Linked DNA regions of Homo sapiens: region 2 is linked to region 1. The links come from fine-mapping of genetic effects on gene expression. A gene starts in region 1. The other region holds a variant in brackets. All regions are shown on one strand. Distances are between the middles of the regions.

Evidence for each region. PIP is the estimated chance that this variant, and not a neighbour inherited with it, causes the effect. A credible set is the group of variants that fine-mapping cannot tell apart.
Region 2: its variant is the best candidate, but not a certain one, in a credible set for the expression of STXBP2 in whole blood (TOPMed, PIP 0.50).

What each region holds. Positions count from the first base shown.
Region 1 is chr19:7,634,640-7,638,639 of GRCh38, reverse strand. It overlaps STXBP2 (syntaxin binding protein 2), which reads right to left and starts at 1,530. Exons shown (of 19, transcript NM_006949.4): 1 at 1,454-1,530. The coding sequence starts at 1,490. It also overlaps a transcript of PCP2 not described here. RefSeq lists enhancers at 401-927, 928-1,456, 1,457-1,984 and a silencer at 1,423-1,712.
Region 2 is chr19:7,712,652-7,717,171 of GRCh38, reverse strand. No RefSeq gene overlaps it. Among named protein-coding and RNA genes, the nearest start is that of FCER2, 13 kb to the right of the region's middle. The variant G/C (reference allele first, on the strand shown) is at 2,205.

The sequences.
Region 1 (4,000 bases):
CCATCTTAATTCCCATTTACTTTTTTTTTTTTTTTAAGAGAGGAGGATCTCACTCTGTCACCTAGGCTAAAGTGCAGTGGTGTGATCATAACTCACTGCGGCCTCCAACTCCTGGGCTCCAGCGATCCTCTTGCCTCAGCCTCCCGAGTAGCTGGGACTACAGGTGCATGTACCACCCACAGCTAATTTATTTTTATTTCTGTATAGATGGGGTCTCGCTATGTTGCCCAAGCTGGTCTCAAACTTTTGGCCTCAAGCAGTCCTCCTGCCTCGGCCTCCCAAAGTGCTGGGATTACAGGTGTGAGACACGGCACAGGAATCATTTATTTTTAGCCCCCAGTTCTGCAAATTGGCTTCTGGGGTCACCCCCAATTTACAGACAGGGAAACAGATTCTTAGGCAACATGTAACTCACCTACGCATCCTGAGTGTCTAAGTGGCAGAGTGCTGGGGCAAAAGGTGCCACTCGATAAACATGTTTTAGGTGAATGAAAAGAGGAGAACCGGGATCATCTACAGCTCTATCTGCCTCTAGCGCCAGGCTCTCGGCTTCCCCACCTGCTACCTCAAGTATTCCTGCTGTGAGGGTTTCAGCCAGTCCCCCCAACCTGGTCTAAAATGTAGGACCCCTGGTTCCCAGCTCTGAGGCATGCCTAGCTGAGGCTATCCCACTGACCTCCGGTCTCAGTTTCCTCATCTGTAAAATGGAATCACTTTTTTCTAATCTCCCCCAATTAAAGGGGTTTGAGCTACAGACCGCCCTGCCTAGAGGAGAGAGTGGAGAGAAGTAACGGGGTGGCCCCGCCCAGCCACGTCCACTGTGTCATGTCCACTGTTATCAAGACGGCCAGGGCGGAAGGAGCAGCTGAGGCCGGAACTCCCCGGGGTGGAGGAAGAGGCGCCCTCCACCCTTCCCCCAAGAACCGGGGCCGGTGAGGCCTGGACGCCTGCGTCCTCCAGCTGCAAGGCGCTCCTGGAAATGGGGCAAGGAGGAAGACATCCCCTACACCACCCCTGTGGGGCCTGGACACGTCCCCTGAGCGCTCACAGCACCTAGGGTCGCTGACCAGAGCCCTAGGAGGCCCCAAGAATCCAGCCCCTGAACTTTGCCCGGCTTAAGAGATCCTAGAGTGTGGGCATCCAGCTGTGCCCTCCTCCCCCGGCAGGCACCCTAGGAGGCCCAGGAGTCCGGGCCCCAGCCTCCGCCACACTCTACCCGTCCCCTTTGGGTCCCCGGAGTCCGGCCCCCCAATTTTGTTCTGTTCTGGCACCGGAGAGCAGGGGCGTCCAGCTGGGAACCCGTCCCCGCCCGCCCCCTCGAGGGTCAGGTGCTCGGACGCCCAGCCCGGCCCCCAACTCCCAGCCGCCATGAAACCCAGGATCCCAGAGCCCGTGCGTCCCCGACCCCCGTCCCACACCGGACGCCAGAGCCCGGCCCCGGAGAGGCACTCACTTTCCCCCACCACCGCCTTCAGCCCCGAGGGCGCCATCTTCCCCGAGGGGCGCCGCCGCCGCTTCCGGGTGTGTCCCAAGGTGGGGGCGTGGCCCCGCGCGTCACCCACGTGGACCCCGCCCCGCGGGCCCTGTCCCCGCCCCCTGCGCACCTGGCCCCTCCCCGCCGTCGGTTCTCGCCCAGGCCCAGGAAGTTGAGTCCCTGGCGGGGAGGACGGGCAGGTGCGTCCGCGCTGCCGAGCACGAAGTCGCTGGAGGTGCACACCTCGACGACACGCTCACAGATGGGAGTTCAGACACACACTTCCTGGCTTGCGTGCGAAGCAGGATCGCAGGGCAATAATCCCTCCATCTTCCCCGGGAGGTTCTGTGCCTGCAAGATACACGGCACCCACTCGATGCCACCGGGCCGCCACTGTCTGGGCCTGGGATCTTGACCCACTTGCCTTCTGTACTTCAGGGTTTAGAGGCAGCAGCAGCAGCAGCAGCCGTCTTGGATAACTTTTGATGGATTCAGGAGGCCTGGAGACCTCTTGTGTGCAGGCACCTGGACATAATTTTCATTCAGTCCTGCCCAATGTTCCGACCTGGACTGCGGTGCCGACGAGGAAACCGAGGCTTAGCGGGATCCCTAATCCAAGGCCACGACGAGTGAGCCTGCTGGGTTCAAGCCAGGAGCCTGTCCCCAGGGGGCATTTGTCACAGCCTTACCCTCTTCCGGGAGGCGCAACGCTTACCCTCGTGGACCAACAATCGAATTAACATGCTGATACACACATGGGGTGAGTGACGCCCTCAAATGCTTGCAAACACAGACACACACTCGGAATTTCAGAAGCTGCTTCTGCTGTGTGTCCTGTCGCTTGGAAGGCACAGCCCCAGCAGCACCCATACAAAATGAGGTCTCCGATTTAAGGTGCGAGGTATGTGTGCAAACAGACTCTTGCTGGTCTGAGCTGGTTCCTTCGCTCGGCCGTGTTGATGAAGGTACCAAGCCCCCTGCCACTTACATGGGACATAGGGAGTGAATCAGACCCGAAGGTCTGGGGGAGATAGGAAAGGATCCATGCTGCCCTAAAGGAAATAAACTAATGTGACAACAAGTGCCACAGAAGGTAGGGGTGGGAGGGGACTTTACTGAGGATGACCCCCGAGGGCCTCTCTGAAGAAGCAGCCTTTTGACATTATCCCTAAATGGATTCTAGAAGCAGCCACACAGCATGTCCAGGTAGAGAAGGGAGGAGCCCCGAGCTTAAGAAGGCTGGAGGGTGGGGGCAGCAGGGGCCAGACTTCTGTAGGACAAGGTCAGACTGACCCATCCCAGTGCCAGGATGCAGGACTTTCAGTGCTAAAAATAGGACAGTCACAGGCAAACCAGGACGGTTGGCAACCGTAGGTAGGAGTTTGAGCTATTTCTTCCTTTCCTTTCCTTTTCCCTTCCTTTCTTCCTTCTTCTCCCTCCTCCCCATTTTTGTTTGTTTTTGTTTTGTAAAGAGACGGGTCTCGCTCTGTTGCTCAGGCTGGAGGGCAGTGGCACGATCATAGCTCACTGCAGCCTCGACTTCCTGAGCTCAAGGGATTCTTCCACTTCGGCCACCCAAGTAGCTGGGACTACAGGTGCACGCCACCGTGCCCGGTTGATTTTGTTGTTGTTGTTAAGAGACAGGATCTCCCTATGTTGCCCAGGCTGGTATCAAACTCCTGGGCTCAAGGGATCCTCCTGCCTTGGCCTCCCAAAGTGTTAGGATTTTAGGTATGAGCCACCGCACCCTGCCCCTTCCTCCTTTTGTAACAGCTTTACTGAGATATAATTCACATACCATACAACTCGCTGACCTAAGGTGCGTAAGTCAATGGCTTTCAGTATTTTTGGAGTTGTGTGTCCATTACCACAATCCATTTTAGAACATTTCCACAACCCCTAGGTGTTTGGGTTTTGTCTTCTCAAGAGTTTTGAGCAGGGGAAGGCGGGGAACCCTCCAGATCCTGGGGGGATGGAAGCCAGGACCGCCTCCAGCTTCTCAGCCTGACCCCTTGGGGGGACAGAGAGCTGTTAGGGCCAGCCACCCCACCACTAACCCCCAAAAGATATGAAGTACTAATCCCCAATACCCCACAATAGGATCTTATTTGAAATGGGGTTAGTATAGATATTAGCAGTGAGCATGAGGTCACACTGGAGTAGAGTAGGCCCCTAATGCAATATCACTGGTGTCCTTGTAAGATAGTTATATGTCTGCCTGGTTCTGTGTAGGTGGTTGGGGGGGTGGGGAAATGGGTATATGAAGACTGGGACACAGAGGGAGAATGCCATGTGACCACGGAGGCAGGGAGTGAAGAGCTGCAGTGACAAGCCAAGGACATCAAGGACGGCAGGCCACTGCCAAAAGCCAGGGAGGGGCAAGGAGGGCTCCTGAGACCTGGTTTTCAGAGGGAGCACAGCTCTGCCAACACCTTCATTTCAGGCTGTGGCCTCTGGAACGTTGGCTCAATAAATTTGTTAAAAAAAAATTTTAAAGGCTCAGCATGGTGGCTCATGCCTGTAATC
Region 2 (4,520 bases), 78 kb before region 1:
AAAACACCATAAACTGAGTTGCTTCTAAACAACCACACATTTTTGGCTCACAATTCTGGAGGCTGGGAAGTCCAAAACCAACATGTTGGCAGACTCTGTCTTGTGAGGGCTCTTTTCCTGGTTCACAGATGGCCATGTTCTTGCCATGTCTTCACATGGTAGAAAGGGCAAGTAAGTCTCTGATGATTGATGAGGGCACTAATTCCATGCATGAGGGCCCCACCCTCATGACCTAGTCACCCCCTAAAGCCTCCACCTTCTAATACCGTCATCTTGGAGGTTAGGTTTCAACACATGAATTCTGAAAAGACACAAACTTTCAAACCATAGCAGCCATTTCTAGAAGTTATGTAAGGCAAGGAAATGAATTCTCCCCCAGAAGGATGCAACCCTGCCATCATCTTAATATAAGTCCAATGGGATCAGTGTCAGACTTCTGATCTTCAGAACAGTGAGATAATAAGTTTGCATTGTCTGAAGTCACTAAATTTGAGATAATTTGTTAACTGCAGCAGTAGCTGACTAATACAAAAGCTTAGCTGGAGCTCACCCATATCACAACAGTAACCACTTGTGACTATTTCATAGCATGCCCTAATAGGTCTGTAAGTACCTGTACACCTTGATGGAAGTAACTCAACTCAAGAAAAACCACTGGAAACACCTGCAATAAACCTTTAACACCCGTAAGATGTTACCACCTAAGATATAACTGTAACTCTCTCCTTGCCTAAAAATACACACAGGTAACTTACCTTATCTAGGGTGGCCATATGTCTCTCTTTGTCTAATTTTCACTTGACCCAGGTATAAATATTCTTTTCTTTTCTTTTTCTTTCTTTTTTTTTTTTTTTGAGATGAGGTCTCACTCTGTCACCTAGGCTGGAGTGCAGTGGTGCGACCTTGGCTCACTGCAACCTCTGCCTCCCGGGTTCAAGCAATTCTTCCACCTCAGTCTCCCGACTAGCTGGGATTACAGGGGCTCACTGCCACGCCCAGCTAATTTTTGCATTTTTAGTAGAGATGGGGTTTCACCATGTCAGCAAGGCTAGTCTCAACTCCTGACCTCAGGTGATCTACCTGCCTTGTTGTCCAAAGTGTTGGGATTACAGGTGTGAGCCACCATGCCCAGCCATGATGTAATTTATATACAATAAGATGCACCCATTTATTATAATCATTAGGATGGCTGCCATCAAAAAAATTACAGAACATGAAAGTACTGGTGAGAATGTGACAAAATTGTGCACTATTGGTGGGAATGTAAAATGGTACAGCCACTGTGGAAAAAGCTTCTGGCAGTTCCTCAAATAAATTATAAATAGAATTGCCATATGGCCCAGGAATTCCATTTCTGGGTGTGTGGCCAAAAGAACTGAAAGCAGGGTCTCAAAGAAATATTTGTACACTCATGTTCATAGCAGTATTATTTACAATAGTCAAAAGATTGAAGCAGGTCAGATGTGGTGGCTCTCGCCTGTAATCCCAGCACTTTGGGAGGCCGAGGCAGGCGGATCACTTGAGGTCAGGAGTTCGAGACTGGCCTGGACAACATGGGGAAATCCCGTCTCTACTAAAAATACAAAATTAGCCGGGCGTGGTGGTGCGTGCCTGTAATCCCAGCTACTCAGGAGGCTGAGGCAGGAGAATCACCTGAACCCAGGAGGTGGAGGTTGCAGTGAGCCAAGATCACGACACTGCACTCCAGCCTGGGTGATAGAGGAAGACTCCGTTAAAAAAAAAAAAGATTGAAGCAACCTAGGTGTCCATAAACAGATCAATGGATAAGTGGAATGTGCTCCATCCATACGATAGAATATAATTCAGCCCTAAAAAGGAAGGAAATTGTGGGCCAGACGTGGTGGCTCACGCCTGTAATCCCAGCATTTTGGGAGGCTGAGCTGGTGGATCATTTGAGGTCAGGAGTTTGAGACCAGCCTGGCCAACATGGTGAAACCCCGTCTCTACTAAAAATACAAAAATTAGCTGGGTGTGGTGGTGCACACCTGTAGTCCCAGCTACTTGGGAGGCTGAGGCAGAAGAATTGCTTGAACCCGGGAGGTGGAGGTTGCAGTGAGCAGAGACTGTGCCACTGTACTCCAGCCTGGGTGACAGAGCGAGACTCCATCTCAAAAAAAAAAAAAAAAAAAAAAGGAAGGAAATTCTGACACAGGCAGTTATGCTAAGTGAAATAAGCCAGCCAG[G/C]CACAAAAAGACAAATATGGTATGATTCCACATTATTCCACTCATAGGAGGTCCCCAGAGTCAACTCACTCATAGACACAAAAAGTCGAACGGGGGGTGCCAGGGGCTGGGGCACGCGGCGATGGGTAGTCGTCGTTTAATCGGTAAAGTTTCAGTTTTTGTTGGTTTTTTTTTTCAGTTTTATAAGATGAAACAATTCCAGAGATTGGTTGTGCAACAATGTGAATATACTTAACACTACTGAGCTGTATGCTTAAAATAGTTAAAATGGTCAATTTGTTGTTATGGTATTTTACTTCAATTTAAAAATTTTTTTAATTGTTTAATGTACTCATTTCAAGTTTACAATTCAGTGAGGTTTTTTTTTTTGGTTTTGTTTTTGTTTTTGAGACGGAGACTCCCTCTGTTGCCCAGGCTGGAGTGCAGTGGTGCAATCTCGGCTCACTGCAACCTCTGCCTCCCAGGTTCAAGCTATTCTCCTGCCTCAGCCTCCCAAGTAGCTGGGACTACAGGCACCCGCCACCAGGCCTGGCTAATTTTTGTATTTTTAGTACAGACAGGTTTCACTTTGTTAGCCAGGCTGGTCTCGAACTCCTGACCTCAAGATCCAAACGCCTCAGCCTCCCAAAGTGCTGGGATTACAGGCATGAGCCACCGCGCCTGGCCAATTCAGTGAGTTTTAACAAAGGTATACAGCTGGGCAACCATCAAGATATTGATGATATAGAACATTTCCATCAGCCCTAGAATTCCCTCCTGCCCTTCAATCTCAGCACCAGCCCTGACAGAGACCTAGGTCATCACCAATCTGCTATCACTATGAATTTGACTTGTCTTGTGAAGTTTCATATAAATTAGATCATACAGTGCATAGTATTTTGTCTCCAAATGCTTGCTCCCAGTGTGATGTGTCTTTGTATTTTGTGTTTTTCATGTTTGTGGGTATATACAGGTGATTACATTTATGGGGTACATGAGATGTTTTGACACAGGCATGCAACGTGTAATTATCACATCATGTAGAATGCAGTCTCCATCCCCTCAAGCATTTATCCTTTGCGTTACAAACAATCCAATTATATTCTTTTATGTTTTATTTTTATTTTTTGAGACAGAGTCTCACTCTGTCACCCAGGCTGGAGTGCAGTGGTGCAATCTTGGCTCACTGCAACCTCCGCCTCGCAGGTTCAAGCAATTCTCCTGCCTCAGCCCCCCAGGTAGCTGGGAATACAGGTGTGCACAGCCACGCTCGGTTAATACACTCTTTTAGTTGTTTTATTTTTTCTTGTTGTTGTTTTGTTTTTGGTGTGTGTGTGTGTGTGTGTGTCTGTGTTTGAAACAGGGTCTCGCTGTGTCGCCCAGGCTGGAGTGCAGTGGTGCAATTTCAGCTCACTGCAACCTCTGTCTCCCAGGTTCAAGCGATTCTCCCTCCCCAGCTTCCTGAGAAGCTGGGATTACAGGCGCCCACCACCACACTGGGCTAATTTTCGTGTTTTTGATAGAGATGGGGTTTCACCATATTGGCCAGGCTGGTCTCAAACTCCTTATCTCAAGTGACCCACCCACCTCGGCCTCCAAAAGTGTTGGAATTACAGGCGTGAGCCACGGCGCCTGGCCTAGTTATTTTTTAATGTACAATTAAATTATTATTGACTGTAGTCACTCTGCTGTACTATTAAATAGTAGATCTTAGTCATTCCTTCTAATTGTTATTATCACTTTTTTTTTTTTTTAAGATGGAATCTCGCTCTGTCACCCAGGCTGGAGTGCAGCGAGGTGATCTTGGCTCACTGCAACCTCTCCCTCTTGGATTCAGGCAGTTGTCCTGTCTCAGCCTCCCGAGTAGCTGGGATTACAGACGCATACCACCACACCCTGCTAATTTTTGTATTTTTAGTAGAGACAGGGTTTCTCCATGTTGGCCAGGCTGGTCTCAAACGCCTAACCACAGGTGATCCACCCACCTCAACCTCCCAAAGTGCTGGGATTACAGGTGTGAGCCACCGTGCCTAGCCAAATCAAGCTTATTCACAACATATGTATTGCCTTAAGCCAGGGCGAGTCACAAGGTCAGGAGTTCAAGACCAGCCTGGCCAACATGGTGAAACCCCTTCTCTACTAAAAATACAAAAAAATTAGCTGGGCGTAGTGGCTGGTGCCTGTAATCCCAGCTACTTGGGAGGCCTGAGGCAGGAGAATCACTTGAACCCAGGAGGGGGAAGTTGCAGTGAGCCAAGATCGCACCACTTCACGCCAGCCTCGGTGACAGAGTGAGACTCCGTCTCAAAAAAACAAAAACCTACTTTCTGAGTAATT